2 separate regions of the Homo sapiens genome follow, and region 2 is linked to region 1. The links come from fine-mapping of genetic effects on gene expression. A gene starts in region 1. The other region holds a variant in brackets. All regions are shown on one strand. Distances are between the middles of the regions. Region 1 holds the start of LINC02982 (long intergenic non-protein coding RNA 2982). Region 2 overlaps BRD9 (bromodomain containing 9).

Region 1 (4,525 bases):
ATGGGCCTGGCTCTGCCAACACATCCGTCATCCTACTACACACTTCCAGCAAACAGGGATGATGCTTTTCATCCAAGGTCAAGGTTGGTGGGGAAGGGCTCTGTCTTGGCCCATGGGCCTGCAGGTCTGTCTCTGAGTTGGGACAGCTGCTGGAAGGCCCCACTAAACTAATGTAAGATACTCGGAAAGTTTGTCACCAGGGGAAGAAAGCATTCTGGACTGCATCATTGGTGTCAGATTCCACTGTGTGTTTAGAAGGCACAGTTTGTTTCCGAGAGTCTCAAAATGTAAGCAGCAAACACCCTGCCAAGCTGCAGACATAGGGCAGATACAGAGAGGGGTGAAGAACTGGAGCAACTGAAGGCACTTCCCATGGATGCTGCGGGGAGAGGACCTCTTCCTGGGAGCTGAGGGCCAGGATCCCCCTGAGGCCCTCTCTGGTCAAATGAAAATGGTTCCTGTCTTATATATTAGGTGAAAGTTTGGATCTCTGTTCTGTAAACTGGCCAGGACTGCACAACAACCTCCCAGTGGCCCATGGAGTGGCACCCTCACGGGGTGAAGCCGCCCCCAGCACCAGTGCAGCCAAAGCTCCGGCTCCTTGGGTGAGCTGGAGAGGAGGAGGCACTTCAGCAGGGGCTGGGGGTGCTGTGTGATTTGCCTGAGAAGCTGCTTCTGTTAACGAAGTCCTGTGCCTGGTGGGAACTCGGGTCGGCCATGAGGAGGATGCACCCATGTCCTCACGCCTGTGGCTGGGTCTCCTCCTCATCTTGTGGCAGCGCCAGACATTCCAGAACATGGGTTCAGGAAACTTGGACTGGGTCTGAACCAGCAGGAAGCATGCCAAGAAACCTCCTCCCACCGTCCTGCTCTTCTCTCCCTCCCTCCCTCTTCCCTCCCTCCCCCGTCCCTCACTCTTCCCCTTCTCCCCCGTCCCCCTTTTCCTCTTTCTCTCTGATCACCAGTCTTCTGAGTTATCACAACCAAGTGAGACTGACTCAAGCTATTATTGAAAATATGGCCACATCGAATGTTTTTCTGATAAAAAGAAGAACATAAGTAATTGGGGCAGGGGGTGAGGTGAGGACCTGGCGGATGCCTTGGAGGCAACACGAGGGTGGATTTGCTTGGGCAGAGCTAAGCCAGTGAGGCCATCTCCACTCAGGCCCGATGGAGTGGAGGGCACTGCCTTGATCCAGTGGAGCCCGTGGACTGTGCCTTTTCCCAGACCTGATGCCTCTCCCACCCCTGCCCCTGTTGCCCCAGAGCCAGGTGAGGGCAGATGGCCCAGGGCCACCTCAGACCCCCACTGGGAGAGCAGCCAAAGCCATGCCCAGTACCAGTAGCAGTGCCTCATGTTCTGAAGATCTGCCTTGTGGATAAAAATGCCTCATCCATTCTTACCGCTATGGAATATTCACTTATAGACATTTATCACTTTTTCCAGGTTATAGTTTTGTGAAATAAAATGTTTATTATTTTTTGTTATGAAAGTGCTGTATGATCATTGTAAAAAAATTAGAAAAATGTGGAAAAATGTGAAGAGAAAAATAAAAATTCCCTCCCCCCCCCACAGATTCCCATCTCCCAAGATAATCACCTAATTATCTGCAGTTTTGTTTCCTACTTATTTTACTGAAAATCATTTCATGCTCATTTCTTTATATGTTGTCAACTGAAGATTCATGAGATTCATAAACATGGAAGGGAGAGCTTTATTTCTCTAAAGAGTTGCAGCCTGCAAGTAACCATCCACAGGCTGGGAGGTGTGGCCTCCACCCTAAACCGGAAGCAGGCACTTTGAGGGTGGGGAGGATGAGACAGGAATGTGCTGACCGTGGTGGCTGAGAGGCTACAGGAGGCACTGTGAGTACTCTACAAGGGTGAGGGGCACGCATGCACAGTGAGCTCACATGTGTGTTACATGTGTCCTGTGTTCACTTTGGGGTGGAGACTTCACATTTAAGTGCATTGAAATGAGGCTCTGTAGGTCAAAAGGTGAAATGAAGGACACAGAGGCATCCTGTGTGCAGCCTCTACACCAGCTAGAACCAGTCCACAGTCAGGATCTGTTATCAGGAAGGAATGCTGGCTGGTTGTTGTGTCAAAACTACACGAGGGGTGGGGAGTCTGGCAAATCTTTCAAAAGGGCTTTCTGTTTACCCTTAGGAAAGAAACTCAATGGCAGCGGTTAGTGAGGGAGGGGGCATAATGAGGTCTGTCTGGCATTTCATCCCTTCATGGCTTGGAACCCAGTGTTTAAGGTTTCTCTGGAGTCCCCTTGGCCAAGAAGGGGTTCATTTAGTCAGTTGGAGGTCTTGGGATTGTATTTTTATTTCTCAATGTTCAAATATTCTTTAAAAGTGCACTTTACCCTTCTGCCTGGTCCTTGAAGGTACAAATGTAGGGACATGGGTTTCACCATTTCTTCCCATCAAGCAGCTACATTGCTTTTAGTTTGCCATTGCAGGTAACATTGTATTGGGTGGCCTCCTTCACAAATTCCTGTTTATGTTTCTAAGTGATTCCTGAAACATTCCTCTTCCCTGGAAGAGGATGGAACTGCTTTTGTTCTTAGAGGTGCAGCCGCTCAGAAAGCTGTTGCCAGCCCACATGCCCACATGCCCACCAGCCACACAGGGGCAAGCTCGTTTCCTTTCCAAACTGTAGCAAACTGAAAAACAAAGTCTCATGATGGTTTCAGTGTTTGTTTCCTTGGTCATGGGCAAGGTTGACATCTACGTTGAATGTCTACAGTTATATTTCTCTTTCCATTATGGTGTTGTTTTCTTGATTAGTAAGAGCTTTTCCTCTGTGAAGGATATGTTTTCTCTGTAATTTTGCTGCAAACATTCACCCAGTTTGCTATTACATTTATCTGGTTTTTGATTTTTTTTGTGTGTGTGTGTGATGGGAGTCTCGCTCTGTTGTGCAGGCTGGAGTGCAGTGGCGCAGTCTCGGCTCACTGCAACCTCTGCCTCCTGAGTTCAAGCCATTCTCCTCTCTCAGCCTCCCAAGCAGCTGGGACTACAGGCACATGCCACCACGCCCGGCTAATTTTTTGTGTTTTGAGTAGAGATAGGGTTTCACCATGTTGGCCAGCCTGGTCTTGAACTCTCGACCTCAGGTGATCCACCCACCTTGGCCTCCCAACATGCTGGGATTACAGGCATGAGCCACCATGCCTGGCCCTGTTTTTTGATTTATAGAAGCTTAACATCTCTATGTAGTAAAAGAAAAAAAGTACATTCTTTTCTTATTTAATAGTGTAATCGGGAATCTTTGCCATTGGAATGGGCTGCTCCACGGTGTAGGTGTGAGTGATACCTGCCCAGTGGTGTTTCAAGCACCCTGCTCACTGCTGGGTCACCAGGTGGTGCTACAAGGTTGCCAGGGACCAGCCATGGCCCGTGTCCTTAGCTGCCTCTGCTCCCCTGGAGCTCACAACCTCAGCAGGATGGGGGTGGAGTGGGGTCTAGACTTTGGGTCCATTCCCTTCTGACTCATTTGCTGCTAGAAACGATTTGTGGCATCCAGGGGGCATTGTGTGCATGTGCTGTGGGGTAAGCACAGGGCTGGGCATCTGTGGGTGATGAACAGGTATGCCTGAGGGTGCTCACCGCCCCAGCAAGCAGGTGGCAGCAGGTCCTGGCTGTCTAGAGCACAGGACATTCACATGTGGAAGCTGGGCTGGGGCAGGTGGCCCCTTTGCACCTGCAGCAGAGCTGGCTTGGTGTCCGGCTGGAGGTAAGGACAGCCAGGTGGAGAGGGGGCGATGAGGGTGGATGGAGTTGCCCCTGAATGGAGATGTAGGCTCTGAGAGTCTTCCGTAGCCTTCCCAACAATGCCCTCCTGCAGGCAGGCCCAGGCCCACTGAGGTTTCCTCCTGCAGACAGCCCACCTGCCACCAACCCAGGCACTGACTGTCTCCTTAGAAACCAGTCTCCAACTCTTGGGCTGCAAAAGGAGATTGTGGCCACACTAGCTTCCGGGTTTGAAGTCCCCCAGGCCAGTGGGACATGGTGTAGGAAGCGGCCTTCTTCTTAGTGTTTCCCTCCAGAAGGCTGTGGGGAGGTGGAAGGGGCAGGCCTGCAGCCCCACCAGGCGGCCACAGTGAGGCTGGCTGGCCCAACTCACCCCTCCCAGGAAAAAGGATGGAGCACCCCTGGCCTCTGGTACCCACGGAGCCACTGGCAGGAGGCAGCCTGAAGTCCAGGCTGTTTCTCAGTTGGGCCAGACCAGTTGTCCCAGATGAAAGAGGTTGCCAGGCAGCTTTCTCTTGAGGCCTCCTCATGGCTGTTGACCAGAAGGCCACCTGCCCATGGGCTGTCATGTCTGTTTCCTGGAGCCTCAGGCCCACCCAATGGGCAGCACTCTGCATGGACTCTGAACACTGCATGGGGCCTGGGCATGGACACTGTGGGCTCCCAGCTGGCTGAGATGTGGAAGCGCTCTATGTGGGGGGCCCTCACCATGGGTGAGCCCAGGGTCCACTGAAGTAGAGGAGAGTTGTACCTGATGACAC
Region 2 (4,000 bases), 120 kb after region 1:
CAAAAAACGTAAAAATATGAGTAACGATTTCTTATGGCCCACATGTTGGAATAAAAACATCTTCAATAAATTTGTCTAAGTAAAATGCATTAGTTAATTGAATGTTAAGAGTAATTTTAATGTGGCAGCTAGAATTTTAAGAGCTGGGTATGGTGGCATGCACCTGTCATCAGCTCCACAGGAGGCTAAGGTGGGAGGATCACTTGAGGCCGGGAGGTCGAGGCTGCAGTGCGATTGCACCACCGCACTCTAGGCAATAGAGCAAGACCCTGTCTCAAAAAAAAGATAAAAAAACATTTAGAACGAGGCGTGTGCTCGCGTTATGTCTGCTGGGCAAGGCTGATCTGGGTTCTTTCTCTCTTTCAGAGAATACTGATGATCATTTTGGCAGTTGTTACTTGTGGATAATGGCCGGATCCTACCAGGCTTGTCTGGGGTGGGTCCAGGGCAGCCTTATTCTAGGGTTCGTGTAGCCTTAATGCTAAGGAGTGGCCCTTCGGGGAGCCCTGTCTTTTCAGCGTGGTCTCTGCTGTGGGTGGAGTTCGGATGAGTCTCTGTCCTTCCCAGGCTCTGAGAACGTTTGGCTCATGGCTCCCAAGGAGGGGTCAGTCCCTTGACCTGACGGTTTCATCTGTGCTTGTTACAGATGAACTGGGGTCCACATGCCTGGTGCAGTAAACCCAGACACCCATGCCGAGGTTTTGTCATAGAAAGGACGTGTGTATTTGCAGGGCGCCAAGCAAGGTGGGCCAGGAGGCTCATGTATAAATCCTGGCCTCCCCCACTGGCTACAGGCAAGGCTTGTAAAGCGGGGGTAGATCTCAGGAAAGCAGAACTGAAAGGCAGAGTCGTGCATAAGGACACAGAGGTTACATGTCGGCTTGGCCTAGAAGGGCGGTATCTGCAAGCAGGGCCTTATAGGTTATAGGTGGATTCAAAGGTTTTCTGATTTGCAGCTGGTTAAGGAGGAGAAGCTTTGTTTAAAAATTTGGGGTGAAGAGAAAAGAATGTTAGCTTAGGCTTGTGGGTGTGGCTTCCTCCAGGCCCGTCAGGAAGAAATTCAGAACAAAGAACGGGGTCAGAGCTCAGTCTTCAGTTTCTCCTTATCTGAGCCCTTCATGCCAGTAGATTAGTTTGTTGGGGAGGTCCTAGGTGGAGGGTCCAGGTTTCTGAAAGACAACTCAGGGATATACATTAAGATGTTATCTTTACTTTCTTTCTTTTTTTTTCTTTTTGAGACATAGAGTCTCACTCTGTCACCCAGGCTGGAGTGCAGTGGCGTGATTGTGGCTCACTGCAACCTCTGCCTCCCTGATTCTAGCGATTCTCCTGCCTCAGCCTCCCGAGTAGCTGGGATTACAGGCATGCGCCACCACACCTGGCTAATTTTTGTATTTTTAGTAGAGGCGGAGTTTCGCCATGTTGGCCAGGCTGGTCTTTAACTCCTGACCTCAAATGATGCATCCATCTCAGCCTCCCAGAGTGGTAGGATGTTGTCTTTTCTTTCTACAGGGAACAGTGCTGGGAGGTTGTCTTTACTTTCTACAGGGAACAAACATCTGTCTCCACCTTCCTTGACTGTTGTTTTAGGATACTGTTACCTTCTTGCTTATCAAGTCGCTGATTTACTTCTCAGAGTTATCTAAGTAACTGGAATTTCCCTTGAAGGAACTCAAGATTTTCCTTGATTTCCATGCTTGGAGGGCTCGCAGGCCCCTGAAGAGAGGGTTGCAGCCAGGCGGGAGTCCCCAAGCAGATTTCTGCAGCTCTGAGGAGCAGCCCCCTCTGCAGAGCCTGCCCCACCAGCTCGTGGTTCTGACTCTGAGCTCTGGTCACCCTCCCGTGTCGTGGCCTGCAGGCTCCTTCCAGGCAGGAAGCTGGCCCCCCCAACACAGCGTTAGAATCAGGCATTGCTGTGGGGTAGGGAAAGTGACCCCCTCACAGCCCGGAAATGGGAAGGCTCTGTGGTTTCCTCTCTGGGTTCCAGTTAGATTCCTTTCGGGAAAGTGAACTTGGATATGGAGTTGAGTGACCCCGAGTGCACCCCCGCAGTAAATGATGCTCAGGACTAAAGTGACTGAAGGCTTTTGGGGAAACAGATGCGAACAAAACAGCAGTATTCATTTTCTAATTAAAAGCTTGTGAAAATCGATGTCATTGAATCTGAGAAACATTATTTCGAACAAAGATCACACATGATAGAGTGCATATACTACAGCATCGCTCCACCGGAGCACAGGACGGGTGTGCCACGGAGGCCGACAGTTGTGGAAGGAGACAATGCACGGCCCGGCCCACCTGCTGCAGGCACCGCCAGGAGGTGTCTGCCTCCTTCGCTCCTGCGCCCAC[G/A]GCAGGCCCACCTGCCACAGGCACTGCCAGGAGGTGTCTGCCTCCTTTGCTCCTGCACACACCTGCCCCTGCAGGACTCGAGCTGGTCTCAGGCAACTGGTCATATTCCAGGTGGAACCCACGAGACCCTTCTTATCCTAAGCTTCCCATAGGATCTAGGCACATCTTTTTTCTTTTGTTTTAAGCCACCCAAGGCTGCCGAAACAGCATCGGCGTCCTCTCTCTGTCCGCTCCATCTCGCCCTGTGGAGCGCTGTCCCCGGCACACAATCCTGGCGCTGAGGAGGGGGCTGGGCGTGGTTGGGTCAGTGACTGGTGATGAAGAAGGTTTGGAGGACCCCCAGCCTTAATCCATTAAGATGGTGTGACTGGGGAGCAGAATTCGCAGAAGCGCACAAGCCATTTTTACGTGTGTGTAATGTCAGCGAATTGTCCGTTTCTATGAAATCACTCTGGAAAAACTAGTTTCTGTCCTCATTTACTTTTCAGAGAAGAAATGTTCCCATGAAGCCTCCAGATGAAGCCAAGGTAAGTTTTTGAACATGGAAGGGCAAGCCAAATATTATTCTCACAGGGAAAGTTGTATCCAGCCTTTGAGGTGGGGAGGTCTGTGTGTATGACGGCGTTTAGAAATGGAGTCCGTTTCTGATCAGTAAGATCAATAGTGTTTCTCCTCCTCTTTTCATGACTTGAGGTGAGTGGTGTGAAGCCGCAGTACATTCTTCCAAATCCAGAAATGGGTAGTTTCAGAGCAGTTGGCCCCGCTGGGTGCTGTCCTTGTGGGACACCCTTGCAAGGGTTGGGCAGGATGGGCCTTCTCAGGACCTGCTTGGTGAGTAGCAGGTGTTGTCCCAAGCACAGTGGGCTCTGGGGCCAGTGCTGGCAGGGCAGTGCTGTGAGCCCAGACTGCTGCACCTGCCGATTGGCAGGTGTGTGTCTCTGACAGTCAGCAGGCATGGGCTTGGGCTTTGGTCCAGGGTCCCTGGGAACCTGGAGAGACCCCTTAACATCTGTTTGAGGGCAGAGGCCGAGCTGCAGGGAGCTGATGAGAGAGTATGTGTTAGGGTGGCTGTAGTCTAGCCCTGAGGACACGCCTTGCTGGGAAAGGAAAGGGAACGTTGTGTGCTCTGTGAAGTGCCTGAGAAATAGTCCTGGACCCTAAAATTCTGTGTGTCTTCCTGTTGCATAATGTCCCTCCCCAATTTCTTTAGCCCCAAAAAGTTAACAAAGGATTGTTAGTTTGCGTTGTTGGTCTCAGTAGGTTTTTCTTTGACATGGATTTGCATATCCATTCATGAGCTCCAACCTGACAGTCCCTTGAACAGCAGCCTCAGTGAACAGGGCTTGGTCTTGTCACTTACTGAGGGGTGGGTTCACGTTTAGCAAATAATTAGAGTGATTTCAATAGCGAGTGTGAAGTAACATTTCGTTTTTCGTTTGATGTTTGAATTGCTCTTGATGTGTGTCTGTCTCCACAGGTTGGGGACACCCTAGGAGACAGCAGCAGCTCTGTTCTGGAGTTCATGTCGATGAAGTCCTATCCCGACGTTTCTGTGGATATCTCCATGCTCAGCTCTCTGGGTGAGTTGTAACAGGCACTTTCCCACAGCACCTGGTGAAGGTGTGATAGAGGAAGAAAACACACGGCCTCC

What was found. PIP is the estimated chance that this variant, and not a neighbour inherited with it, causes the effect. A credible set is the group of variants that fine-mapping cannot tell apart.
Region 2: its variant is the best candidate, but not a certain one, in a credible set for the expression of LINC02982 in tibial nerve (GTEx, PIP 0.63).

What each region holds. Positions count from the first base shown.
Region 1 is chr5:994,612-999,136 of GRCh38, reverse strand. LINC02982 (long intergenic non-protein coding RNA 2982) reads left to right here and starts at 1,797. Exons shown (of 2, transcript NR_104615.1): 1 at 1,797-1,866. LOC124900932 (a long non-coding RNA gene) reads left to right here. Exons shown (of 2, transcript XR_007058677.1): 2 at 1-1,493. RefSeq lists an enhancer at 3,864-4,364.
Region 2 is chr5:870,402-874,401 of GRCh38, reverse strand. It overlaps BRD9 (bromodomain containing 9), which reads left to right. Exons shown (of 16, transcript NM_023924.5): 13 at 2,838-2,876; 14 at 3,827-3,929. Among named protein-coding and RNA genes, the nearest start is that of BRD9, 20 kb to the left of the region's middle. The variant G/A (reference allele first, on the strand shown) is at 2,350.